4 separate regions of the Homo sapiens genome follow, and regions 1, 3 and 4 are each linked to region 2. The links come from fine-mapping of genetic effects on gene expression. A gene starts in region 2. Each other region holds a variant in brackets. All regions are shown on one strand. Distances are between the middles of the regions.

Region 1 (8,219 bases), 29 kb after region 2:
AGATATGTCAGCTCTCTCCCAAAACTTGAAGACACAGAGTCCTGGGAGTCGTAAGTTAATGACTCCATAAATTGAGTCCCGCATGAATATTCTGTTCTTTAGAGACGCGAAGTTCATCTCCACCAATGTACAAAGTATTAAGGGAAGTAGTTCATATTTAGACAAATAGAGCACTCATCTCCCACGCAGTCGAGGTGAGAGCGCACAGGAAAAACAACTGGGTCGTTCTGTGTCTTCTCTCTATGCCTAGTCGCCTGGTTGGAGGTTAGGACTTTCCTTCTTTACTGCTGTGCCCTCTGCTGTCACCCTGCTTGGTCAGGGTTCTTGACCTGGATGAGTAACCCAAATCTTTTTTTTGTTTTAGACAGAGCCTCGTCCTATTGCCCAGGCTGGAGAGCAGTGTTGCAATCAGCTCACTGCAGCCTCAACCTCCTGGGCTGTAGTGATCCTCCTGCTTCTGGCTCTTGAGTAGCTGGGACCATAGGTACATACTACCATGCCTAAATAATTTTTATTTTGAGACAGGATCTTGCTCTGTTGCCTAGGCTGGAGTGCAGTGGCATGATCATGGGTCACTGAAGCCTCAACCTCCCAGACTCAAACTATCCTCCAGTCTCAGCTTCCTGAATAGCTGGGACTCCAGGGACATACCACCATGCCTGGCTGAGTTTTTAATTTTTCAAAGAGACGAGGTCTCCCTGTGTCATCCAGGCTGGTTTTAAACTCCTGGGCTCAAGTGATCCTCCCACCTCAGTCTCCCAAAATGCTGGGACTGCAGATGGGGGCCACTGTGCTCAGCCAGGACCCATATCTTTATCCCCAAAGGGTCTGACTTGTTGGTAGTTTTGCTTTTTTGGTGGCTGTAGTTCCCATTAACTTTTACTGGTAAAAGCAGAAATACTAAACTGTTTTTAGGACTGGCCTCTAGATAGTCTCCCACAGTGGGTGGCAGCAACTCAGTCTCGCTTTGGGAGTCAGGGTTAGCCTCTCCAGCCAGGGCTGGTACATGAGGAGGCCAGAGGGAGCTGTGGTCTGCACCCTGGTTGGCACATACTCCCTTTGGAGTAGCTCGTAGCTTGCTCTTTTTTTTTTTTTTTTTTGAGACTGAGTCTTGCTCTGTTGCCCAGGCTAGAGTGCAGTGGCGCAATCTCGGCTCACTGCAACCTCCGCCTCCTGGGTTCAAGGAATTCTCTTGCCTCAGCCTCCCAAGTAGATGGGATTACAGGCACCTGCCACCACACCCGACTAATTTTTGTATTTTTAATAGAGATGGGGTTTGGTTTCACTGTGTTGGCCAGGCTGGTCTCGAACTCCTGACCTCATGATCCACCCGCTTCAGCTTCCCAAAGTGCTGGGATTACAAATGTGAGCCACCACACCCGGCCTTTGGACCAGCTCTCTTGACAGGAGGGTCCAAGGAGGCGGAGACGGGACTCTTGGCAGTGGAGACGGGACTTGTGGCAGCGGAGATGGGACTTGAGCCATTCAGACATCACTGTTTATTCCTAGACCCGTGTGTTCTGGCTGTGAGATCCAGCCGGGATTGGTGTCTATTCACAGCATTTGTGGCATCCTACTGGGCTGCCAGGCCATGGCTCTGAGTGATGGGCACATGGTAAGACCATGTTCTGCCTGAATCGGTGAATTCATATAGCTTCGTCTTCTGGCCGTCTTTCAGTTGGTCAAGTGGACATCCAGATAATAAGGCCAGGGGTGTCAGTGCCAGTGTGCTGTGCAGAACCATGCGTAAACCACAGCAGACTTTTGTCTTCTCAGTCCCTTGACCCTAAGGGACTCCCCAGAGGTTGTCAGTGTGGGCTGAGGGAGGAAAGCGGTTGAGCAGCCACCAGTGCAGGAGGCATCTGCCCCATAGCTTAGGCAGCTGTGCTGCACCTGCCTTCCTTCCACACCATCTCCTGGGTGCCATTTCCACCCTATGAGGCCACTGCTGCATCTGCCCAACCTTGTGGCTTGGTCTGTCAGTAACACCTGGAGTGGGCAGCAGGTTGCTCAGTCATTTTATGTCCCTTAGCTGAGTGTTCATTCCCTGCCAGGGCCTCACAGCCAGCCTGGGGCTGTTTCTCAGCAGGAGAGCAGGTACCTGCAGGAGAGCTAGCTCACTTGCCCTCTCCCCTCCCCGCCTCCCCTCCCCTCTGCCTCCCGTCCCCTCTTCCCCTCCCCGCCTCCGCTTCCCTCCCCGCCTCCCCTCCCCTGCCCTGCCCTTTTCCTCTTTTTTTTTTTTTTGAGACTGAGTCTCCCTCTTTTGCCTAGGCTGGAGCTGGAGTTCAGTGGTGCAGTTTTGGCTCACTGCAACCTCCACCTCCTGGGCTCAAGCGATTCTCCCACCTCTGCCTCCCAGCTAGCTGGAACCACAAGTACATGCCACCACGCCCAGCTAATTTTTGTATTTTTTGTAGAGACAGGGTTTCGCCATGTTGTCCAGGCTAGTCTCGAATTCCTGGGCTCAAGCGATCCTCCCACCTCAGCCTCCCAAAATGCTGGGATTATAGGTGTGAACCACCACAATCAGCTGCCTGGCCTAATTTCTTTTTCTTTTTTTTGAGTTGGAGTCTCTCTCTGTCACCCAGGCTAGAGTGCAGTGTCACAGTCTCAGCTTATTGCACCTGCGCCTTCTGGGTTCAAGCGATTCTCCTGCCTCAGCCTCCCCAGTAGCTGGGATTACAGGTGCATGCCACCATACCTGGCTAATTTTTGTATTTTTAGTAGAGACAAGGTTTCACTGTGTTGGCCACGCTGGTCTCGAACTCCTGACCTCAGGTGATCTGCCCACTTCGACCTCCCAAAGTGCTGGGATTACAGGCGTGAGCTACGGGCTGTACCTGGCCCGGCCTAATTTCTTAACATCATTAAATGTCTACTGCATTCATATTTTTCCAGCTGTCATGTCAGTACCTGCACGGGCACATGCATGCATAACCACATGCACACATGGTTGGTTTGAATCAGGATCTAAGCAAAGTCTGAACATTGCCGTTTGGTTGATGTCTTCTCTCGGTTTGTTGATGGAATTGGGTTGTTTTTCCTTGAGATTCCTCACATCAGGGTTTGCTCACTGCAGCCTGTGAGATTGTTTCATGTGGGTCTCGTTTCCTGTATCCTCTGTTTCCTGTATCCTCTTGTAAATTGGAAGGTAGATTTGGAGACTCATAAGAGTAAGCTTTGTGTTTTTTTTTTCTTTTTTTATCAAGGAAATATTCGTGGCAATGCAAGCAGCGTCAGGAGCTGCAGAGGCTGTCACTGCTCAGTGGCCCCAGTGTCCTTCATGGAGTTCTCCACAGCCTTTCAGCTCCTGCCTTTGGCAGTGGCTGGTGACCCGTGCCCGCATCTGTTCCTTCATTAGGGTGTGCAAAACGGTGACATTATAATTAGGTCACTCTTTGCTTTTATTGCCAGAATTATTCTTAAGAGAAGAATTTTCCTATATCCATGATTTGGTTATTCTGAGTTTATTTGGGAAAGACAGAATAGATATTTGATTTGCTTCCTTTCAACTTTCGGGATGATGCGTTGATTCTCTAGCATTCTCCAAAGGTGACTAATGGTCTCTTGGAGCTTTGTTATGAACTATTGAATGCTGTGGTATTTCATGGGTTTGAATACATTGCAGGTAATATTCTTAATATGCTTATTGACCTTCAGACTCTCTGATCATTGTCCAGTGGAAGTCTCTTCTAGTTTGCTCTTGAATTTTTTTTAAGTTTTAGGTATTTTTATTTAAGGGAAAACATGTAATAATGAGGTATTTTAGGTCGGGCGTGGTGGCTCATGCCTGTAATCCCAGCACTTCGGGAGGCCGAGGCGGGCGGATCATGTGGTCAAGAGATCAAACCATCCTAGCCAACATGGTGAAACCCTGTCTCTGCTAAAATTTCAAAAATTAGCTGGGTATGGTGGCTGCACGCCTGTACTCAGCTACTTGGGAGGCTGAGGCAGGAGAATCGCTTGAACCCGGGTGGCAGAGGTTGCAGTGAGCCGAGATCACGCCACTGCACTCCAGCCTGGCGACAGAGCGAGACTCCATCGCAAAAAAAAAAAAAAAAAAAAAAAAGAGAGGTATTTCAGACACTGGCATTTTTTCGTAAATATTTGAAGTGAATTACGTAGATCTTAAGTGTGCAGTTTGATGTCTTCACAAGTGCATGCACCCCTGTAACCCACACTCGACCAAGGCATAGAGCATTTCCAGGGTGGGCACCGTGGCTGACGCCCATAATCCCAGCACTTTGGGAAGCCGAAGCGGGCGGATCACTTGAGATCAGGAGTTTGAGACCAGCCTGGCCAATATGGTGAAACCCCGTCCCTACTAAAAATACAAAAATTAGCCAGGCGTGGTGGTGCGCACCTGTAGTCCCAGCTACCTTAGAGGCTGAGACAGGAGAATCTCTGAACCCAGGAAGCGGAGGTAGCAGTCAGCTGAGATCGTGCCATTGTACTCCAGCCTGGGCAATAGAATGAGACTCTGTCTCAAAACAAAAACAAAAACATTTCCATCCCCGCAGAAAGTCCCCTGGTGCCTCTCAATCAATCCATACTATCCCCATTCGTTGGCAGTCATGCTTCTGACTTATTTTACCAAGATTAGTTTTGCCTCTTTTCAGACGTCACATAAAGGGAGTCATATAGTATAAACTGTTTTGGGACTGGTTTCTTTTGTTCAGCATGTTTTTGAGGTTCATTCCCGTGGTCACTGGTTTCCTGAGTCCTGTTGATATGACCCTGGCAGTCTTCAGTCACTTCCTTGCTTTCTGCTACCACAAGATGCTCCGTTTGTCCTTGTTTGTGTCTGCCCCAGACCTGAAGGAAGCCACATAAAGGGCAGGTGTGTGGTCCCTGACTGTCAACCAGGGAAGTCCGTCTCATCCTGACCAGCAGCATGCTCACCACATGAGCCTCCTGTTTTTATCTCCTTTTCTGTGACGTGGTTTCTCGTTTGACCTTTCCTAGCCCTCGAGCATGTTCCAAACTC[G/A]GTTCGCTTGTGGAAAGCAGCCGTTGAGCTGGAAGAACCTGAAGATGCTAGAATCATGCTGAGCCGAGCTGTGGAGTGCTGCCCCACCAGCGTGGAGGTGAGTCTGGCGGGCTCAGGGCCACCAGAGCCCAAAGTGGCCAAGGCCTGAGCCCAGGTTCAGTGTCTGGAAGTGATGATACAAGTGGAGCATTGAGCTCACTCAGGCTGCAATTTCTGGGAGCAGAAGGCCCTGTGGAACCCCAGGATGCCGTTCTGTACATAGCCGCTAGGCAGGGTGGTCAGTGGCCTCAGCTAGCTGTGCTCTTAATGGACGTGCAGGGAGAATCTTAGCTCATACCTGACCACTGCAGAAAATTCTCTGTTGGGCAGTTGCTCAGGGGCCATTTCCTCTCAGCAGCCCAGAGTTTGTCATGGGAGCCGAAGGTGGCAGCGTGATAGAAAACATTGCTTTCTGTCAGCTCCGCATGACTGCTCTTTGCCTCTAAGCTAAGTGGGATTTCTTTGGTTTTAAGCATTCCAGTTCACAGCATTCTGTGCAGTGATTTTTAGTCTTGGTTTTATGATACCTAGTATGTCTTTAATTATCCTAAGGGGTATTGTGAAATTCTCCAAACAACATTAATCTTATTTTATTTACATAAAAATGAATAAAGCCCGTACACATCTTAGGGATGGAATGCTGCAGAACCAAGGGTCTGGGAACTTCAGGAGGCTGAACACCCTTCTGTGTGTTTAGCCTGTGAGGGCAGTAGCCTCATCCTGCTCGTCTGTGCCAGCCCCTGGTATCAGGTCTGGCGTGCTGTGTGCCTGGAGGCTGTGTTTGTGAACATTCAACTGAGAATCTTTTGATGCTCACGAGAGTCACTAAATGAGTCAGAAGCATAAAGGAACAGTTGGTCAGGTGAGAAGTGCTGCTGTGGACACTTCTCAGGCCATGTTCAGATGGTTCTCGAGAGCTAAGAAAGAACGTGGTGGCCAACGCTGGAGGGTGGGTCGCTGTCTGGCCTGCAGCTGTCCCCCCAGCACAGTGTCCTCTCCTTTTTCTCGTGTCCTCTCCGCGTAGCTCTGGCTTGCTCTGGCAAGGCTGGAGACCTATGAAAATGCCCGCAAGGTCTTGAACAAGGCGCGGGAGAACATTCCTACAGACCGACATATCTGGATCACGGCTGCTAAGCTGGAGGAAGCCAATGGGAACACGCAGATGGTGGAGAAGATCATCGACCGAGCCATCACCTCGCTGCGGGCCAACGGTGTGGAGATCAACCGTGAGCAGTGGATCCAGGTGGGCCGCAGGCGGGTGTCGTGGTGTCTGCTTTAACAGTGCACATGCAGCACGTGAGAGTCCCACGCAGGACTGGGGGTTGCTGGATGGTACTGGGGAGTCCTGTGCCAAACCAGAAGCAGGCACAGGTGTGAATGGGCCCTGAGGGACCTGGGCATGCCCACTGTCGCTCTTGATGGATTCAGGCCTGGAGTTCGTCTTGGGGTGAACACTTCAGAAGCCCTTTCAGTGTGTGCACACCTGACTGCATTTCTTTGCTAGTAGAAATGATACACCTACGAGAGGAGGACAGGAAGTCTCATGGCTTCTTTCTTTGCTAGTAGAAATGATACACCTACGAGAGGAGGACAGGAAGTCTCACGGCTTCTTTCTTTGCTAGTAGAAATGATACACCTACGAGAGGAGGACAGGAAGTCTCACGGCTTCTTTCTTTGCTAGTAGAAATGATACACCTACGAGAGGAGGACAGGAAGTCTCACGGCTTCTTTCTTTGCTAGTAGAAATGATACACCTACGAGAGGAGGACAGGAAGTCTCACGGCTTCTTTCTTTGCTAGTAGAAATGATACACCTACGAGAGGAGGACAGGAAGTCTCACGGCTTCTTTCTTTGCTAGTAGAAATGATACACCTACGAGAGGAGGACAGGAAGTCTCACGGCTTCTTTCTTTGCTAGTAGAAATGATACACCTACGAGAGGAGGACAGGAAGTCTCACGGCTTCTTTCTTTGCTAGTAGAAATGATACACCTACGAGAGGAGGACAGGAAGTCTCACGGCTTCTTTCTTTGCTAGTAGAAATGATACACCTACGAGAGGAGGACAGGAAGTCTCACGGCTTCTTTCTTTGCTAGTAGAAATGATACACCTACGAGAGGAGGACAGGAAGTCTCACGGCTTCTTTCTTTGCTAGTAGAAATGATACACCTACGAGAGGAGGACAGGAAGTCTCACGGCTTCTTTCTTTGCTAGTAGAAATGATACACCTACGAGAGGAGGACAGGAAGTCTCACGGCTTCTTTCTTTGCTAGTAGAAATGATACACCTACGAGAGGAGGACAGGAAGTCTCACGGCTTTCTTTGCTAGTAGAAATGATACACCTACGAGAGGAGGACAGGAAGTCTCACGGCTTCTTTCTTTGCTAGTAGAAATGATACACCTACGAGAGGAGGACAGGAAGTCTCACGGCTTCTTTCTTTGCTAGTAGAAATGATACACCTACGAGAGGAGGACAGGAAGTCTCACGGCTTCTTTCTTTGCTAGTAGAAATGATACACCTACGAGAGGAGGACAGGAAGTCTCACGGCTTCTTTCTTTGCTAGTAGAAATGATACACCTACGAGAGGAGGACAGGAAGTCTCATGGCTTCTTTCTTTGCTAGTAGAAATGATACACCTACGAGAGGAGGACAGGAAGTCTCATGGCTTCTTTTACTCTTCCCCTCTCCCCCACACCCTTTTTTTTTTTTTTTTTTTGAGAGGGAGTCTTTCTGTCACCCAGGCTAGAGGGCTAGAGTGCAGTGGCACGATCTTGGCTTACTGCAACCTCCACCTCTTGGGTTCAAGCAGTTCTCCTACGTCAGTCACCTGAGTAGCTGGGATTACAGGCACCCGCCACCATACCCAGCTAATTTTTGTATTTTTAGAAGAGACAGAGTTTCACCATGTTGGCCAGGTTGGTCTCGAACTCCTGACCTCAAGCAACCTGCCCGCCTTGGTCTTCCCTGTCTTTTATCTTTGTCTGTAGACTTAAGGCTATAGAAAAGTTTCCAAAGATGATCTAACTTAGGAAGTAGGGCTTGGGTTCCCTCTAATGCCTTCTTTTAAGGAGTCACCCACTGAGTTATGTTTCTCTCAAGAAAAATAAATAATGAAATTACTATTTTCTGTTATATTTTATGACAGTTTGTCTTTCTTTCCTTCCTTCCTTTCTTCTTCTTTCTTTCTTTCCTT
Region 2 (5,131 bases):
CTGAGGATGCTGCTTGCCCATCGCCACTGAAGGCACCCAGTTCACACAGCCCTATCTGGTGTTGGGGCCCGACTCACTGACTATGACTCATTGACAGCCTGAACTGTGGGCCAACTGACAAGCAGGGCTCACTCCGCAAACACGCGCTGGGCTCTCCAGCTGTGCCGCCCCCCACAGGGCCTGCAGCCCGGGACAACACCGGCCATGTGAATGGTGGGTACCCATTGGATATGGGCGGGTCAGCACAGGTATGTGGGGTGCAGCCATTGCTTGGGGACCCACGGTGATGCTCTGTGCTCCCTCTTCCCACAGTAACTGCATTAAAGTGTTTCATCTGAGCTTTGTCATCATCTCTGGGGGCACTGCTGACCTGAGTCTGGGGAGGCAGGCGTCTTGATCCAGGTCTGGTTACAGAGGGGCACCCCACATTCATTGTCAATGAATGAATGAATGAAGGCTCTGTATGGTATCTGCAAGTGAACAGAGCCTGTGGGGAGACAGAAGGTGGGCACAGGCCTGCCCCTGTCTTTACAGCACCCTAGCACCCAGGCCTTCAGCAGGGCAGGTGAGGTTCCCACGCTAGGGCCCTCATCCCATCCACCCTAGAGTGAGAGACCCTCCCGGCCTCAGACTCAGCCACCCACTCCACACCCAGGGCAGGGGTTGGGGATGTGTCTAGGAGGTCTAAGTATCGGTGAAAACCACATCCTACTTCCCCGTCCTCCCACGCCTGTAAGACTTAGGAGACATAACACCTTCCGCCCCCATTCTTGCAACTTTCAGGAACCGGACCCCTGGGTGACTCCAAATTTGAGGTCTGGGGTCAGCAGAGGGTGTGCTCAGTGGGCCACCGCCCCGAGGTGGCCCCTAGTGCTGTGGGAAAAGGCTTATTCTAAGCCCGCGCCTTCCAGCGGACAGGCGCCGTGGTCGCCGGGCTTTGCAGGGCCTCGAGCGGCGGGGCTGGTGCAGAAGCGCGCGGCAGTCCGGGGAAACCCGTCGGACTCCTCAGCCCGCACGGCACCTGCCCCGGCCAAGCAGGCTCCGCCCATTTCCTGCCTGCACTCCCGGAGGGAGTTCCGTCCGTCCCGCGGTCTGTCGGTCCGGTCCCTCCCGCCCCAACGTCAGGATTCCAGAAGGAAATGGGGCGGGGGCACCGAGGCGGGATGTGACCTCGGCCCCCTTTCGGCCCCACTGCAAAAGCGGGGGAGGGTTTTCCCCGTGCGCAGGAAAAGGTGACCCGAGCGTAGTGCCAGCCTGGACACAGGCGCCCCGGCTTGACACCCCCTCACCCCAAGCCAAGGGCGCGCTGACCCCCAAGGCCTGAGGCTGGCTGCCCCCTAAAGCAGGACAAAGGCTACGGGACCCCGTTGAGCCGAGACATCCGCCGAATACCCCCAGCCACCGCCGCTCGAAGCCCGCCGGGTCCCGCCCCGCCCCCGTGCCTCTGGGTCCCTGAGACCCCCGCCCGAGAAATCCCCGCTCCCCAATCCAGCCCCGCTCACCGTCCACATCCCGGCGCTCCCCGAAGCCCGCGCGCACGGCCCCGGCGCGGCCACGCGGGGGGCTCAGCTTGGACCTCAGCTCGGTGAACATGGGGCCCGCGGGTGCCAGGCCCGCGCACACGCCCCTCGCCGAGTGCAGGGCGGCCGGTGTGGCCGGCGGGGAACGCGCGCCGCCGCCCCGCCCCGCCCCAGCCGGCCCCGCGCCCGAGCCGGTCCCCGCGGCCCGCGAGTGTGCGCGACGAGGCACCTGCCGCCGAGCCCTGTGTGCCGGGCGCGCTCCGGGAGCTCCGAGGTGTGTCGGCGGCGCGCGGGCCTGCGTGCACCAAGGCTGTCCGCCAGGGCGAGGGGCGTCCGTGCGCCCCTGGGCACGGCTCCGCGGAGGAGAGTCCCCGTGAACCTGCCGGGCGTCCTCTGAGGTCGGGCCCCTCTGTGCGTGGGGGTGGGCTGAGGGGCATCTCACAGGGGTCTTCTACCTACCGGGGCCAGGACAAGGGGCAGGTCAACGCCTCCCACACACTTTCCTCGGTCTCCTACGTCTTTACTCGCCTTCAAATAGGCACCCGCTTCCCCGGAGAAACCAGCTTGACTCTTGCTTACCGCCCACCCCACTGTGAACATCAGGGTGGTTCTCCCTTCCCTCTGCAGCCCCAGAACCTGGCTCAGTGCCCGGGGGAGAGGGGGCGGTACAGTGCTCTGTAACTGAAAGGGGCTTGGCTTGCCTGGAGATGGGGCAGAGGGGAACTCCAAGGAGGCTGTAGCAGGCCGGAGCGGTGTGTTTGCTCCAGGACTCCAGTGAGAAGTGCTGAGATGGGGCTGGGCTAGGGAACTGTGGTTGCCTGGTGCAGCAGCAGGCCAGGCTTGCAACCAGCTATTCGGCTTGCTCTGCCCAGGAGCCTGGGTGCTCTCCCTGGGTGTATGTAGGGGCTCTGGAGGATGTCTTACAGCAGGAGGACCAGAGATGCACACAGACATGTAGAAATGCATGCACAGAGTACAGTCATGCACTTGCACCCAAAACACGAGCACACGTGACCTCTGTGCACACACCCCACTAATCACACACACAGAATTCACCCACATGCTTGACAGCCATGTTCATGTACTGACGTGTTCCCGACAGCTCAGCTGCGGTTATTTATTTCGTCAATTAGCTCTCCAGGAGCTAAGGATGTGGCCCTCACCAGAATGTCCAAGGCATGTTGGCGGGCGTGGGTGGGGTCTCTAGTCCCACTGGAGGGACAGATGCCTGAATGGGGGTTCAAGAATATGAGTGCTAAAAGCGTAGGGCAGCAGTGTGCGCACAGGACGCACACAGACAGGTGTGCCCATAACCAGTACACACAAGCTCTACACAACTGGACAGGGTACAGCTCTGCTCGGACAGGGCGCACCAGGGGCGAGGGCGGGCAGCTGGGCTGGTTCAGAGGGAGGGGGCCATGGGTTCAGAGGGAGGGGACCATGGGTCCCACTCTCACAGACAGGTCTCCGGACTGCATCAGAGCACTCGGGAAGCAGCAATGCCCCAGGCTGTTTTTAGCCCCCAGGGGCCAGTTAGGGTCCCAGTGCAAGCTCGACCTAGCTTCTTCCGCCTCTCCACGAGGAGGCGCTCCCGCGCACGCGCCTACCACGTTCCTGCCCCCTAGCCGCGGCCGGAAGTCGTCGAACCAGGACGTCGGGACTTCCGCCCAGGGAATCAAAAGTGGGCGGGGCGTGTGCGGACTGAGCGCTCTGCTTCCGGGGCGCGGGTGACGCGACGACGGCGACACTTTGCTACGGAGTGCATCGGACGTCGAAGCCTAGAGTCTCTGCGTCTTTCCCTCTTCCGCTGCCTCATTCCTTTCCTTCCTAGCCTTGGTCGTCGCCGCCACCATGAACAAGAAGAAGAAACCGTTCCTAGGGATGCCCGCGCCCCTCGGCTACGTGCCGGGGCTGGGCCGGGGGTGAGGCCTGGGGCGGCGCGCGAGGGGCGGGGACCCGGCTACAGGAGCGCAGTGCTTTGGGGCGTGTTTGGGGGCGGGGGTCTATGGCCGCGCAGTCTGAAAGACGCTTGGTGGATCGGCTTAATCCCTGCAGGAAGCAACGGGCTTTGGGGTCAGGACATACCTGTGTGTGCACCCTGCTTGCCGCCTAGATGTGACACATTGACTCTCAGCCCAGTGTTTTGGTCTGTAAGATGGGTAATGCTGTATACGGTCTGCAGTGAGGAGTAGAGGAATCTGACGTGTAGTGGAAACACGCGACCACCTTCCTCAGGTCGGGCTGACACTCCCCCCCCCCGCCCGCCCGCCCGCCCCGCCTTAAGCGTGCCTGGGTCCTCTATGCCTGCAACACAGATGACCACCGTGCGTTGCTGGATAAGTGAGCAGTCGTTATTATCCTATTTGGCTATTCATTTGATGAGGAACACTACTGGGTTTTTCTTGGTGGTGGTATTATATTGGAATCTGTGGGGCACACACAAGCTCACTAAGGAGGGTTTGCTATTACCATAAATAAGTACGTAAAGAGGACCAGATTTAGAACCCAGTGCTTAATGGAGAGTAGCATTGGAGCCAAGTTTAGTAAGAGAGCTGGACTTAGGGCTGTAGAAACGGTGACGATAGAAGAGAAACTGACATTCTGCGTGTGGGAGTTCAAAAAAAGTGAGGCAAGGAGGAAGCCCAGGGAACAGGAGGGAGTCCAGTGTGAGTGGAATGTACAGCGAATAGAATAGAGCTCAGGAGGTTGGAGGGGCCTTGAGCGTCAGGCTAGAGCTCCTGGAGACGTTAGAAAGATCATGACCCTTCAGAATTATTATTATTATTATTATTTTTTGAGACAAAGTCTTGTTCTGTCGCCCAAGCTGGAGTGCAATGGTGCGATCTCAGCTCCCTGCAATCTCTGCCCCCCGGGTTCAAGCAGTTCTCTGCCTCAGCCTCCTGAGTAGCTGGGATTATAGGTGCCCGCTACCACGCCCGGCTAATTTTTGTATTTTTAGTAGAGACAGGGTTTCACCATGTTGGCCAGGGGGGTCTTGAACTCCTGACCTCATGATCCACCCGCCTCCGTCTCCCAAAGTGCTGGGATTACAGGCGTGAGCCACCACGCCCGGCCCAGAATTTTTTACTCAGAGCTGTGTTTTGGGAAGAATCATCTGGCAGAGCATGGGTTGAAGTAGAGGAAGGCTAAAGGCAGGGAGAGGTAACTTGGTTTCCAGCTGTGATGGGAGTCATAGTCTGGGAAGGAGGGATTTTGAAAGTGGATTCATTAGTACTTGGGGACAGACAGGATGGGGAAAGTGGGAGAGGGAGGCAAAAATTACATCATGGTCCCGTGGCATCTGGGACAGCTGTTATCAGCTGAAACCCCCCAGAGCAGCTGTAAGGTGGGCACGGAAGAGCTCAGTGTGGGCCAAGTTGGGTTTAAGGGCCTGGTTGGATGTGGAGGGGGAGATGATCGAAGCCTTAGGGTGGAGAGAGATTGCCTTGGTAACATCATCAGGGTAGGCTGAAACTTTCAGGTAAGCAGAGAAGATCAGAAGTGTTTGAGACTGCAGTTCATTGTCACCAGGATCTTTGGAGGTTTCCCAAAGGTGTTAGAAAAAGAGGTGTTAGTAAGTGATAACCAGGAGTGGAGAAGAGCACAGGAAC
Region 3 (5,945 bases), 37 kb after region 2:
CGACACCGTGAGTGGAATCACACGACACGTGGTCTTTTGTGACTGGCCTTAACTTAGTGTGTTTTCAGGGTTCCTCCATGTTGTAGCATGGAGGTATTGAAATCCTTTGCCTACTTTTACATTGGATTGTGTCTTTATTATGGTCTATGTATTATTTTTGTCTGTTGTTTTATTATTGAGTTGTAAGAGATGTTTTTATATATTCTGGATATATTGTCACTTATCAGAGACATGATTTGCAACTACAGATGGTCCCTGACTTCCCATGGTTTGACTTTTGCCGTGGTTCAAAAGCAGTTTGCATTCAGTAGAAACTGTCCATGGAGGAAGAGCCAGCGCAGTTTGCGTTCAGTAGAAACTGTCCATGGAGGAAGAGCCAGCACCTTTGCCGCAGGCCCCTGAGGGTCTGGGTGCTGGGTCCTTGCCCCACGCATTCTTCTCACCACTGACCTTTGTGCCAGCGTCTCTGCCTCAGATCCTTGCTCTTGGCTCTGCTTTCTGTCTGGGATGGTTTTCTGGTGCTGGCAGGGCCCTGGGAGGGTCTGGGAGGCATGTGGCTCCGGTTGCACTTTGCTCACGGTCCATGTCGTGGTCCCCCATGTTGGCATGCCGCAGTGGTGCCTGTGCTCCTGCACCCTGTTGCTCTGGCTGGGTTATTGTTCTCTTGTTGGTAGACACATTCTCTTGCACACATGGGAATATATTTGTCACATGAATGCCTTAAAGTAGAACTGCTGGGTCAAATATGTGCCTGTTTTATTTTGATAGAGAATGAGAAATTGCCCTCCATAGAGATATGTGCTTCTTTGCAGTATAAGATTTATGCCCCCTTCACCAAGTGAGCCAGTCAGCACATGTTTCAATGTTGCTCATCTGATACGTGCACAATGGTACTTAGAATAGTTTAATTAGCATCTTGAAAATAAGAATAGGGGCTGGGTGTGGTGGCTTATGCACTAATCCCAGCACTTTGGGAGGCTAAAGCAGGAGGGTTACTTGAGACCAGGAGTTTAACACCAGCCTAGGCAACATAAGGAGACCCTGTATCTATGAAACATAATGTACCATTGAGCATGGTGGTGCATGTCTGTGCTACTCGGGAGGCTGAGGTGAGAGTATCCCTTGAGCCTGGGAGTTGGAAGCTGCAGTGAACTATGATTGTACCACAGCACTTCAGCCTGAGTGACAGGGAGAGACCTTGACTCTCTCTCTTTTTTTTTTTTTTCTGAGACGTAGTCTTGCTCCGTTGCCCAGGCTGGAGTGGAGTGGCGTGATCTTGGCTTACTGCAACCTCCGCCTCCCGGGTTCAAGTGATTCTCCTGCCTCGGCCTCCCGAGTAAGCTGGGATTACGGGCACCCACCACCACGCCTGGCTAATTTTTGTATTTTATTTTTTAGTAGAGACAGGGTTTCACCAGGTTGGCCAGGCTGGTCTCGAACTCCTGACCACGTGATCCACCCTCGACCTCCCAAAGTGCTGGGATTACAGGTGTGAGCCCCCACACCTGGCTGAGACCTTGTCTCTTAAAAAAATAAAATAAAAAGGCTTTACATTTCTTTTCACATGTTTGAAAGTTGTTTGTATTTTTATTTTCTAGTGAACAGTGTGCCTATGTCCTTTGTGACATTTCTCTATTGTTTTTTCTGATTGGCGTGCAGTAGACTCACTTCCTCAGATCCCCAGTAGGCAGTGTCAGCATCTTGTGCTGATGTCTGTCAGTTTTAACCGTTCAGGAACTCCGTACTCCCCGTTGGGAATCTGCAGCTCTGATTTCCAAAATCACAAATAAGTTTTGTGTTCCTCTTTCAGGATGCCGAGGAATGTGACAGGGCTGGGAGTGTGGCCACCTGCCAGGCCGTCATGCGTGCCGTGATTGGGATTGGGATTGAGGAGGAAGATCGGAAGCATACCTGGATGGAGGATGCTGACAGTGTGAGTTGGCAACAGGGGCCTTTGTCCGTAATATGGAGTCTCTGCTTGTGGGAACAGCAGGCACCTTATAAACTACTAGGCTATTTTAAAACTCTTTTTTTTTTTTTTTAAATCTGAGACGGGGTCTTGCTCTGTCGCCCAGGCTGGAGTGCAGTGGCGCTATCTCAGCTCACTACAACCTCCACCTCCTGGGTTCACGCCATTCTCCTGCCTCAGCCTCCCGAGTAGCTGGGACTACAGGCATGTGCCACCACGCCCAGCTAATTTTTTGTATTTTTAGTAGAGACGGGGTTTCACCGTGTTAGCCAGGATGGTCTTAATCTCCTGACCTCGTGATCCACCCCGCCTTGGCTTCCCAAAGTGCTGGGATCACAGGCGTGAGCCACCGCGCCCGGCCTCCCAGAGTGCTGGGATCACAGGCGTGAGCCGCCATGCCTGGCCTCCCAAAGTGCTGGGATCACAGGCGTGAGCCACCGCGCCCGGCCTCCCAGAGTGCTGGGATCACAGGCGTGAGCCACCGCGCCCGGCCTCCCAGAGTGCTGGGATCACAGGCGTGAGCCGCCGCGCCCGGCCTCCCAGAGTGCTGGGATCACAGGCGTGAGCCGCCCTGCCCGGCCTCCCAGAGTGCTGGGATCACAGGCGTGAGCCGCCGCGCCCGGCCTCCCAGAGTGCTGGGATCACAGGCGTGAGCCGCCGCGCCCGGCCTCCCACGGTGCTGGGATCACAGGCGTGAGCTGCCGCGCCCGGCCTCCCACGGTGCTGGGATCACAGGCATGAGCCGCCGCGCCCGGCCTCCCAGAGTGCTGGGATCACAGGCGTGAGGCGCCACGCCTGGCCGCAGATTTGCTTTCTTACTCTGTTCGCTCTCATGCACTTACCTCTTATTTTTTTTTCTGGAACTGTTTGACAATGAATGAGTTGCAGATGTGGTGCCCTTTACCTTAAACACTTTGGTGTGTATTTCTTTAAAAGAGGACGTTCTCTTACACAGCCATAGCTCAGTTATCAAAATCAGGACATTGATGTTGGGACAGTGCTGTCAGGTAACTTCAGACCTTACTCAAATCTCACCCACAGGCTGGGCATGGGGCTGACGCCTGTAATTCCAGCACTTTGGGAGGCCGAGATGGGCAGATCGCTTGAGCTCGGGAGTTTGAAACCAGCCTGGGCAACATGGCAGAACACCATCTTTACAGAAACAAAAGCCAGGCATGGTGGTGCACGCTTGTAGTCCCAGCTACTCAGGAGGCTGAGGTGGGAGGATCACTTGAGCTCAGGAGTTTGGGGCCGTAGTGAGCTGTGATTGCGCCACTGCACTTCAGCCTGAGTGACAGCAAGACCCTATCTCAAAAAAAGAAAAAGTCTCACCCGTTGTCTCTGTGTCCTTTTAGCAGAAGAAAAAACCAACTGTCTTCTGTGAGGAATACAGGGTCATCCTCAGGCTAGTCTGGAAGAGAGCCTCAGCCTTTGTTGTTCCTGAGTGTGAATTTTTTGAGGACCACGGGCCAGTGATGCTGTAGACTCCTCTTTCATCTGGTTCTCTGTGGTGTCTCCTCCGGGTTGGGTTGAGGCTTCTTGGTGCATCATACGGAGAGGTGTGCACCTGTTCAACTCCGACCGTCTGGTGCGGGCAGTGGCCGCAGGTGTTTCCACTGTATGGTTGCTGTTTGTTTCTTTGTTATTATTAATAAGTATTTTGAGGATCCATTAATGATGCTTCTTGGCCTGAATCAGTTATTTCTGTGGTGTTTGCTAAATGGTGATTTTTTTTAAATCTTTTTTTATATATTAAATTTTTTTTGTAGAAACAGTATCTCACTATGTTGTCCAGGCTGGTTTCGAACTCCTGGCCTCAAGTGATCC[C/T]ACCTCAGCCTCCCAAAGTATGTAGGATTACAGGCGTGTCACTGTGCCTGGTCACACCTGCATAATGATTTTGTGAACAGTTTCTCTTACATTTTATTAGTTGGAATTCTACAGTAACGAAGAGCTTCACTTTCTCCTTCATCCGTGTGCGTTCACTTCCTTCCATCTGGATTGGTCAATGGCTCCTCCTTTGGTCCTTGGAATCAGACCCCACTGCTGGCATTGACCGTGTGATACACACATGATTCTTTTGCACCCCGTGTGGCGTGACCCAGAGCTTGTGTGCCGGCTGGGCCATCCTCCTGCCCCATGTATGCTAAAATACACACATCAATCCTTAGGTGAGTTAAGACGCAGGGCAGCGGTAATAGTTTTTGTTGTTGGTTTTTTTTTTTTTTTTTTTTGGGACAGAGTCTCACTCTGTCTCCTAGGCTGGATGGAGTCCAGTGGCACGATCTTGGCTCACTGCAACCTCCGCCTCCCAGGTTCAAGGGTTCAAGCAATTCTCCTGCCTCAGCCTCCTGAGTAGCTGGGACTACAGGTGCCTGCCACCACACCTGGCTAATTTTTATATTTTTTATAGAGATGAGGTTTCGCCATGTTGGCCAGGCTGGTCTCGAACTCCTGACTTCAGGCCATCCACCTGCCTCAGCCTCCCAGAGCCACTGCTCCTGGCCTGTTTTTCTCTTATTATTTTGTCATCTCTTTCACATACACTGGAGTAAGCACAGCTGTTTTTCAAAGTGCTCGTGATGCTAGAGTAAGGAGGACAGTGTTTTCTGTGCCCAGAAGTGTGCTGTGGTGCTGCTTCCCTCCCGGACACCAGGGCCCTGGGCACAGCATCACTTGATCCTGTGGGTGTTCAGGCCACTCTCGGGTTGCTTGTGAAGGTCCAAGGAGGCGATGGAGAATCTGAAATGCTTTGTCACCAACCCTCAGGACTTGGATCAGAAATCACAGAGAGGGGCATAGACCAGAGTGCTCTATCCAGGGCCTGACCCTCACCGGCATCCTCCCTGACCCCCTCAGATGCTCCTGGTCAGGACACAGTGCCTGAGGCAGGGCCCTTGCTGGTTTCTGTGCTGGTTGAGTCAGACTGAAGCCATGTGACTTGGGAGGCATCAGGTCTGAGTGAAGAAATCTCAGTGACATCCCCACTCCTCGTCCTCCTGACCCATTTTCATGCTGGGGCTCCTTAACTGGGAGGCTCACTGTTGTCCCTTCCTCTCGTAGAAGGCAGCTGTTCCTCTGGGAACTGTTCTTGGGTGCCCCTGTGTGGGGACTTGGACAGCTTTGAGCTGCCAGTCCAGATCTTTGCCATTGTCATGTTCATAGTTGCAAAACTTTGTTCCTGACCCACTTCCTGGTGGCCTCTCACTTACCTTCAGCAACAAACTCCTTCTTGGTACAAGAATCCTTTCAGCGGCCGGGCGCAGTGGCTCATGCCTGGAATCCCAGCACTTTTGGGAGGCCGAGGTGGGTGGATCACTTGAGGTCAGGAGTTCGAGACCAGCCTGGCCAACATGGTGAAACCTCGTCTCTACTAAAAATACAGAAATTAGCTGGGTGTGGTGGCAGGCGCTTGTAATCCCAGCTACTTGGGAGGCTGAGGCAGGAGAACTGCTTGAACCTGGGAGGTGGAGGTTTCAGGGAGCTGAGATCGCGCCACTGCACTCCAGCCTGGGTGACAAAGCGAGACTCTGTCTTTAAAAAAAAATCCTTTCAGCATCTGCAGGGCGCAGAGGACGGTGACTTGCCCCTGTGTGAGGCTGAGTGGGAACAGGTGTCTGAACCTGGCCCAGTGAGTCTCCAGGTGTCATGATCGCCAGTCAGACGAACCCCCAGAGGCTTTAGCGCTGCAAATGGTGACTGGCTTTTTTGTTTTCTTTTGTTGTTGATGCTAACCAAAAGATAAAGTCATTCTTGAGTATAGGGAAAAAAAAGCCTGAAGAAAATAGAACTGTGTTTACTGTAGTTCTGTTGAGTGGATGGGTTTTTTCCTGTTTGTATTCACTTGTCTTTTACAGGTTTCTAATTAATGTAACTTTTTATCGTGGTAAATATATACTATACCTAATTTTTTTTTTTTTTTTTTTGAGACAAGGTCTCTCTCTGTCGCCCAGGCTGGAGCGCAATGGCGCAATCTTGG
Region 4 (8,219 bases), 74 kb after region 2:
GCAGAGGCTGTGGCGTCCTCCCTGCCCCCCAAGGGCCCTTGGGGAAGGGGCTGGGACCCTCAGTGGCTTGCTGGCTCCCCTGCCCAGCCCAGGCCACCGCTGCAGCAAGAGGCAGGGCCTACCTGGGTCCTTCCCACTGGCCCCTCCCTGGACCCTCTGACCTGGGCGGGGGCGGGTTCCGGAGGAGCGTCCAGCTTCCTGAATTTTCACTGTCCCCTTCCTACTCCATCAGGAGGGGATCTGGGCTCCAGAGCTGAGGGTCTCCCTCTGGAGGTCCTCCCCTCCCACTGCCACGCATGGTTCTACTGGAGAAGGGTTGGGTGTCCCCAGCAGCCCTCCAGGCAGGGTCAGAATCTCGCCACCTCGCGGCACATCTCCTCATAGCCTGGAGGCTCCCCAGCTCCCCCCGCCACACTATGCCGGGAGCCCCATGGGTAGAGGCCACAGGTCTTGTGACCCTGAGCCTGTGTGGCCAGAAGCTCTTGGTTCTCTGTCCCTGCCAGCCTCGCTAGGCCACATCCAGCCTGTGTTATGAATGGGGTGGGCCCCACGTGGGCCTTGCAGTGCCCCTTAGAGGCTGTTCCTGAACTGTCCCCAGGGGCACTCCTGCCCTGAGGCCAGCACCCCCACAGGGGCACTCCCACCGAGGGCTGTCGCGGTCGGTGTCCAGCCCTCCCCAAAGCCCCACATCACAGTCTGTCTCGACGCCCATCGTCCCAGCATACGGGGCTGGGTCTCCCAGTCTGGTCTCCAGATCTCCCGTCCCTCCAGTTTGCCCCACGGGCCTAGCACCTCGTTCACAGACACTGAGCCAGTGCTGGCTAATGGGGGGCCCGTGGGGCACCAGGAGGTGCGGCCCCTGGCTTTTCTGGGGAGGCAGGCAGGGTTGTGGCCACAGGGATGGAGGGGCTCACAGGCCTCTGCCGGATGCTGCTAGTCCTCCTTTAATCTCAGTATGGGTGGCTGGACCCTTGGCCGAGTCTCAGTGTGGGTGGGCCTCCTGGGCAGCTGGCAGGAGGGTGCAGGGGGGGTGGGGAGCCGTGCGAAGACCCCAAAGGGCTACCACTTGGCGGAAGCTCTCTCTACTCACAACCTTAGGGTTGCAGTCAGGGGTCACCAGGGCCTGGCTCAGCCTGGGCAGTGGCTGGTCACTGCGGCCTGGGAAAGAGGTCCTCGGGGTCCTCTGCAGTAGCCCTCACACGTGGGGAAGGATTTGCAGTTCCCTGGGGGCCCTGCTTGGTCCTCTGCCACCCCCGAGAGCCCAGAGTCACTGGAGCTGCTCTAAACATAGTGGCAGGCAGTGTCCGGCATGACCTCATCGCCTCCACGTCCCCCACAACACCCACCAGCAGCCGCCTTGCCTGGCGCCAGCCAGTGACCCACCCTCTTGGCTGGGCTGTGGACTCAGGTGTCCGGCTGTCATGTCCTGTGAGTCGGGGCTGGGCGGGGAGCCTCCTGAGGTGCTCCTCTCCCTCTGCGTGGCAGGGAGGAGGCTGGCAGCCCTGGCCCAGTGTCCAGATGGGACAAAGTGGGGGTAGGGACCACAGCCAGGGTGGCGTGATCTGGAGCCGCAGGGCTGGGGGGACTTGCCAGGGCTGTAGAGGGGATGGTGTGGGTGTGGCCAGCTGTGCTGAGGGAGGGGCATCCGATGTGTGTCTGTGCATCTGTGTGTGGCCTGTGTCTGTCTGTCTGCCTGGGTGTGGGGTGAGGGGGACTCTAGTGCTGGAGGCTGCCCAGGGCCTTGAGAGCCAGGCAAGCTGGACGTTCCCAGGAAGAGATGAGGACCCATAATAGGTCCAGGACCAGGGGTCCTGCTCCGTGAAGTTTGGAGGGTCCCCAAGGCTTCTCTGGCCACTGAGCTTGGGCCCCAGCATTCTCCAAAAGAGGGCAGGCAGTTCATGAGTCTAGGGGCATTCCTCTGCCTCTGGAACCCCACCTCAGTCTGTCCTGGACTAGGTGGGCTATGGCCCACCCTTGGGAAGGAGCCTATCTGTAGCCCCCAAGCCCCAGTCAGAAAGGCAGAGTTTGGGGGCAAGCTTTCTCTACAAGGGTGGGGCTGGCCTGGGCACTGAGTGGACACTGTCCTCCTGCCTGCCACCTGCCCCTCTCCCTCAGCTTGGACAGGAACCCCGGCCTCTGAGTGAGGTC[C/T]GCAAAGGATGCTGGGTAGTCCCCCTCCGTGGCTCTGGGTGGGAGCTTGGCTTGGCGCGGCTCTGGGCCGGGATGGCAGGACCTCCCAGCCACTGCCTGGGCACAGACCTCCCAGGATCCCACCAGCCCAGCCCCTGCGGCTGCAAGAGCAGCGAGGCTGGGACCAATTACCGAGTCCCGCAGGGCCTGGACCCTCCTGCTCCTCAAGGGTGAAGGTGGGGGTTCCTGTTGGATGCAGTTTCAGGTGGAGGGGGCTCTCTGGCCTCCCGAACCTCGGCTCTCTCCAGTTCAGATCCTACCTTCTGCCCACAGCTGAACACCTCTTCCTACAGGGAGCCCCCGACCTCCCAGCCACTGTCCTCCAGAGGCCATAGCATCTTGGTCTCCTTCTGTCTGCTGCCTCGGTAGGCTTCCTTTGGGACCCGTGGAGGCATGTCTGACTCCTCAGGAGCTCTGTATTTAGTGGGCCTTGTCCTGGGGTGGCGGCTCCAGGCCTAGTGAGACATGGCAGAGGCCAGGGCAGGGAGAATGTGAAGCTGGGGCGAGGGTCTGTGACGAGGCCGCCTGACGCCTCAGCACCAGGTGGACACAGTTGTGTGCATGTCCCTCTTGGCCAATGACAGGTCCGGTTCAGGTGGCCCTTGCCCAGGGACAGAGGCTTCTCCTGGCTCCGTGCCTTCCAGCTCTCAGTCCTGGTGTGCACAGCGTCACCGGGCTTCCGATAGCTGCCGGCCTCAACTCTGGGAGAGGGCAGGTGGGGCGGCAGGAGGTGCCTGTGCTTTCCTAGGCATGAGCAGGCATGAGAGGTGCACATGCTCCTGCTCACCTGGGCGGCGCCTCTCAACTGTTAGGTGTGGGGTTAGGGTTCACCTGACGATTTGCCGCAGTCCAGCGGACCCGAGAGTTGCATGCAGAGCTGGGGTTGCGGTGCGAGTGGGGAAGGGTCTGAAGGTGTGGGTGCAGGGGGCTGTGCTGGGGCCTGCAGGCTGGGGTGTGCGGTGTGAGTGGGGTGCTTTTGTAGTCTAAGGGGTGATGTGCCAGTCGTCGTGTGGTGTCAGGTGTCAGTCGTCGTGTGGTGTCAGGGTCTCTTCTACTCGGTGCTAAGGGCCAGCAGGACCGAGAGGGGTAGGGGCTTCTCTGGGTCGAGGGCCACAGGGGGCTGGTGGGGGTGGGAGTGCTGAATGCACAGGGTGATGCTGGGCTTCGGGTAGCAGATGTGCTGTGGACAGTCGGGGTCGGGTCATCTGCGGCGAGCGGGGCTTCTGTAGGTGCTCCCAGGGCCCTGGTGATGTGGAAGCTGTTCTCAAATTCTGGGGTGTTGTGCTGTGGTGGGCATGTACCTAGGGTGTTATCAAGGGCTGTGCCCACTTTTAGGGGCACTGGGCAAGAGTCGGGGTGTCAGAGCAGCTGCTTGAGCTCCGTGGGGGCCATTGTGTGGCCCTTGGGGTGTCCTGCCCTGGGGGCGGCTGCAGGGCCGCTTGTGTCCCTGGGTGTTGCTGCCTGCTGTGCGGCCTTCCCAGTGATGTTTGTGTGTGTGTGTGTGTTGGGGGGGTTCCATGGGAAGCAGGCTGGGGGGCTGGGCTGCTCCGGGTTTCTGAGGCAACAGCAGGGAGGGGCCAGGAAACTGCAGCTCAGGAAGGAAGGCCGGCCTTGCAGGAGGGGGCCTGGGGCCAGCTTGGGCTGAGCAGGCGCCAGACATTCTGTGCTGCGGCCCCGGCCCCCACTGGCTGGGAGCTCCTGCCCAAGTTCCGCTGGCCCCACCCTTGTCTCCACCTCCATGCTTGTATGGCTGCCTTTATTCAGACCGTGGTGACTTGGGCTTGGGTCTGTGGGTGACCTGGTCCTGTGCTTATGTGAGCCCCAGTCCATTTGTGGCTCTGTAGAGGCCCAGATGGGGCTCTCAGTGTACCCTGCACCGTGGGGCATGTGTTAGCACACTCCGGTCCCCAGGGTCCCTGGAGGGCAGTGTCCACTCTGACTACCCTGTCCTGGGCTGGCCCAGCCTCCTTCTCCCCTGCCAGGCTGGTAAGTCGGGAGAGGGAGAACATCCTCAGGGGTCATCTGTCTCCCAGCCACGGAGGGGCACTGCAGGGCCGGATGCCTGAAGCTGTGTGTTTCTTTTTGTTGCTTGTCCTGGCATTGGTGACAGCCAGCTGGGGCTGCCACATAGGCTGGAGGGGGCAGGCCTGTGTTCTGGGGGCTCATCCACCCCTTCTTGCTCAGGGACAGGCAACATCTATCCATCCATTTGTTATTGAGCACCTGTTGTGTAGTAGACCCTGTTTTAGGGGTTAGGAATTTGGCAGAGAACAAAACAGACAGGTCCCTGCCTGTGGGAAGCTTCCATTATGGTGAGAAGAGACAGACAATCAACAAATCCACAAACAGGTGTGGTGACTCATGCCTGTAATCCCAGCACTTTGGGAGGCTAAGGTGGGCGGATCACCTGAGGTCAGGAGTTCGAGACCAGCTTGGCCAATATAGTGAAACCCCTGCCTCTACTTAAAAAAAAAAAAAAAAAATACAAAAATTAGCCAGGCGTGGTGGCGCATGTCTGTAATCCTAGCTACCCTGGAGGCTGAGGCATGAGAATCGCTTGAACCCAGGAGGCAGAGGTTGCAGTGAGCCAAGATCGCACCACTGCACTCCAGCCTGGGTGACAGAGTGAGACTCTGTTTCCAGACAAAAGCAAAAACAAAAAACAAAAATTAGCTGGGCGTGGTGGCACATGCTTGTAATCCCAGGTAGTAGGGAGGCTAAGGCACACGAATTGCTTGAGCCCGGGAGGTGGAGGTTGCAGTGAGCCGAGATCGCACCACTGCACTCCAGCCTGGGCGACAGAGGAAGACTGTTTCAAAAAACAAAAACGAAACAAAACAAACCTAACCAAAAACAAATCCACAAACAAGCCAGAACTTGGGGTGCCAGGTGTAGGGAGGGGGGCTGTGTCAGGGCCACACATGGCTTTTGCCCTTGGGGGTTCATCAGGTATAGGGAGGGGCTGTGTCAGGGCCACACGTGGCTTTTGCCCTTGGGGGTTCATGGGAGGAGTCTTTTCACAGAGGGAGGAGCATGTGCCAAGGCCCTGGGGCAGGGAAGTCTGCTGGTGTGAGCAGAGCAGGGGGTGCAGAGAGGAGGGGATGAGGCTCAGAGGGAACAAGGGGCTGAGTTGGCTCTGGGAGGGTCTTGCATTTTCTGAGTGAGGTGGGACCTTGGGAGGTTCTGAGTGGAGTGTGATCTGCCTCAGCTCAGCTGCTACGTGAAGACGGGGCTGTGCGGGGCAGGAGGGACGGGCAGTCCCCTGCCAGAAGGCAGGGGGCTCTGCTTCTGCCGCGGCGGGAGCCTGGCCAAGGTTTGCTCTCAGACCCCATCTGGCTGCCCCAGGAGTCTCCCTGGTCTCTCTCTGGGAGGCCTGGGCCCCTGGGAGGTGCCGCCTCAGGGAACCCTGGTTTTGCTGCCCTGTGAGTCAGGTCTCTAGGCTTCACCCATAGCCCCGACCCCACGGCTGCCTGGGGCCTCTGGGGAAGGGGAGGGTGGAGTGGCCGCCAGGCTGGCGGGCTGGCAGGGCTGCATTTCTGGGAATTGTGTGGGGGAAGTGCATTGTTAGAGCAAGCCTGGAGCAGGCCGCCAGGGCCGCCACTGGCCTCTGGGGATGCCTCTTGCCTCCCCCAGCGTTGCTTCTGTGGGAGGGAGCTGGGACTGGGCCAAGGCTATGGGCTGGGCTGGGGACTTTCCGAGAGACGCTGCCCTGGGCAGGTGGCTCTTCCCATTCTACAGACTGGGCGACTGAGGTCCAGAGAGCCGGGTGCTGCAGTGGCATAGCCAGGAGCAGTGGGCCCAGTCCCCATCCCCTGCCCTCCTCTGCTGGCGCATGGGACAGGGGAGCACTTGCTGGACCTAAGCCCCGTCGCTGCCCTGCTGGTGGGGGCATCCAAGGGAGGCCTGGGTGGGGTCCACTGGGGTCACAGCTCGGCAGAGCCCCCAAGGTGGGCTGGAGGGTCTGATGGAAAGGGGCGCAGAGACGGCTCCTAGGTGCTTGGGCTGTGGGAGGGCTGCCCATGGGGTGGCAGGGGGTGGGGGCTCCTGGGGCTGCAGGATCCCCAGCCCCCGCTCTGTGGTTGCAGGAAGCAAGGGGGGCTCCGTGTGAGTTTGGCAGCGGGAGCCTTCCCACCACGGCGCTGCCTCAGCCAGAGGGGAAGCATGGATAGCGGCCACTGGGGTCATGGCCGGCTTTGGGCGGGCAGGGGGCAGGGGACACAAATAGAAAAATAAATGGCCTGAGTTTCCGACGTTTCCTGGACTCAGGATGGGGGAGGGGCAGGCCTTTGGGCCAAAGGTGCGGCTGGCCCTGTGGGGTGGACCAGGGGTTTCTCCCCAGACGCCTGTTGGGGCCAGGGCTGCCCCCTCAGACCTCCAAGGTGGGTCACATCTCCCCCTTAGAGCCCTCAGGACAGGGCCCCGTTGCCCACAGAGAATTCCTAAAGGCCTATCCATATGTCCCTGTCCATAAAGACGTCGAGTGTGGAGGACACCCTGGAGGAGGAGATGGAACCCTCCTGTTTGCTGGGGCTCGGCCCCCGGTGAGGCTGGCTGCAGGTGACCACAGAGACCTAGCCTGGTGTCGTGCGGCCGCTGGGTCCGTGAAGGGGAGTGAGGCACTCCTCACCCTGTGGCAGCTCCTAGTCAGGAGGCCTCTCCCCTCCACCTGCACGTCATGTGGCTGTGGCTCCCAGGACCAGCGCCTGGAGCGGGTGAGTGAACGTCCCTCTCCTCCGTGGGCACTGCCTCCGCTGTGAGCCACCCTTCAGGCTACGTGCATTTCCGCCTGTTCTCAGGGTTTAACCGAAACCGAACATTAACCGTAGCCCTAACGCGGCTGAGGGATCCAGGCCTTGCCTCTGGGCCGGGTGAGAGACAGACACTCGCCAACCAGTCCGCAGTGGCTCCCCGTGTGTGCGAGGCTCCCGCCTGCGTGTGTGCGTGTGCATGTGTGCCTGCGCACAGGGGAGGGAAAGTTCTTCAGCTGCCGAGGGCGGGAGTAGGGGCTGGAGCAGCACCCTGCGGCGAGGCCCCACAGGAGAATCGATGGTTCTGATGCTGTCAGCCTCTGGGTGCAAATTCTGAGGGCCCGGGAGCGTCTGGCGGCCCTGAGCAGCTTGCTGGGGAAGCTCCGTGGAGGAGGAAGTCCGGAGGTCGGTAAGCTCCAGGAGGGGTCTGCTGGGGGGCGAGAATGCTCTGAGCAAGGTCCCAGAAGTCCAGAGCTCCTGAGGGACCCGGGACCAGGGGCACTGGGGAGTTTCAGGGTTGGTCGCCGCCACAGCCCTCACAAACGAGGCCACTCTCTAGGACTGGCCACCTTCTCACCTCGGCCACTTCACAGTCCTGGGGGGCAGCTGTGGCTCTTGCTGGGAACCACCTGGACCTCCCTGGGGCTTGGGGGTGGGGTGGTGGTGAAGTGAGGCCCACCCGTCCGTGGCTCACTCCTGCCACCTAGAGGCCACTGTTCCTCACAGGCTCTGGGGCCAGTCACCTGCCTCTGCCCGGGGGCGGGACCATCCCACCGGATTGCAGGTTCCCTGATCACCAGGATGGGCCTACACCTCTCCGCCTGCAGTAGTTGCTTCCACGCAGGACTAGAGCATGTCAGGGTTCGGGGCTCCTGTCATAGCGGAGTGGCTGCGGCCCGCAGGTCAGAGGCACCCGACCTCTTCTGCTAACCCCCTTCCCTGCCTGTCCCGTCCGCTCCTTTCTCTCCATCACCTGCCCCTGCCATGAACCAGGCCACCAGTGACCCCATCCACACCTGTCCGACCAGGCTCCCCACGTGCCCTAATGCAGCCCCGTAGGCTGGGCCCACGGCTGACACCCCTTCCTGAGGGATCCCCGACCTGCCAGCCGTTGTCCTTAAGACGCCACAGCATCTTGACCTCCCCGTCTGCAGCCTCTGTGGGCCTCCACTGGGACCCACTGAGACATGTCAGGCTCCTCACGAGCTCTGTCTTGTGTGGCCATGCCCAGGGCCCCAGGACGTAGAAGACCACCTGGCATCTCATGGAGGAGGAAACAGGGCC

The links. PIP is the estimated chance that this variant, and not a neighbour inherited with it, causes the effect.
Region 1: its variant is the best candidate, but not a certain one, in a credible set for the expression of PRPF6 in whole blood (TOPMed, PIP 0.63).
Region 3: its variant is the best candidate, but not a certain one, in a credible set for the expression of PRPF6 in whole blood (INTERVAL, PIP 0.72).
Region 4: its variant is the best candidate, but not a certain one, in a credible set for the expression of PRPF6 in whole blood (TOPMed, PIP 0.66).

What each region holds. Positions count from the first base shown.
Region 1 is chr20:64,005,235-64,013,453 of GRCh38, forward strand. It overlaps PRPF6 (pre-mRNA processing factor 6), which reads left to right. Exons shown (of 21, transcript NM_012469.4): 10 at 4,966-5,084; 11 at 6,051-6,269. Among named protein-coding and RNA genes, the nearest start is that of C20orf204, 27 kb to the right of the region's middle. RefSeq lists a silencer at 1-32 and an enhancer at 6,208-7,407. The variant G/A (reference allele first, on the strand shown) is at 4,988.
Region 2 is chr20:63,977,875-63,983,005 of GRCh38, forward strand. PRPF6 (pre-mRNA processing factor 6) reads left to right here and starts at 3,258. Exons shown (of 21, transcript NM_012469.4): 1 at 3,258-3,442. The coding sequence starts at 3,372. It overlaps SAMD10 (sterile alpha motif domain containing 10), which reads right to left and starts at 1,768. Exons shown (of 5, transcript NM_080621.5): 1 at 1,503-1,768. The coding sequence starts at 1,593. RefSeq lists enhancers at 922-1,216, 1,202-1,717, 2,313-2,372 and silencers at 1,563-1,882, 3,443-3,552.
Region 3 is chr20:64,014,913-64,020,857 of GRCh38, forward strand. PRPF6 (pre-mRNA processing factor 6) reads left to right here. Exons shown (of 21, transcript NM_012469.4): 12 at 1,811-1,933. Among named protein-coding and RNA genes, the nearest start is that of C20orf204, 18 kb to the right of the region's middle. RefSeq lists an enhancer at 1,787-2,986. The variant C/T (reference allele first, on the strand shown) is at 3,797.
Region 4 is chr20:64,050,312-64,058,530 of GRCh38, forward strand. It overlaps a transcript of TCEA2 not described here. Among named protein-coding and RNA genes, the nearest start is that of SOX18, 4.8 kb to the left of the region's middle. RefSeq lists promoters at 1-313, 1-105 and enhancers at 2,629-3,318, 4,699-5,388, 5,389-6,078, 6,769-7,458, 7,459-8,146. The variant C/T (reference allele first, on the strand shown) is at 2,149.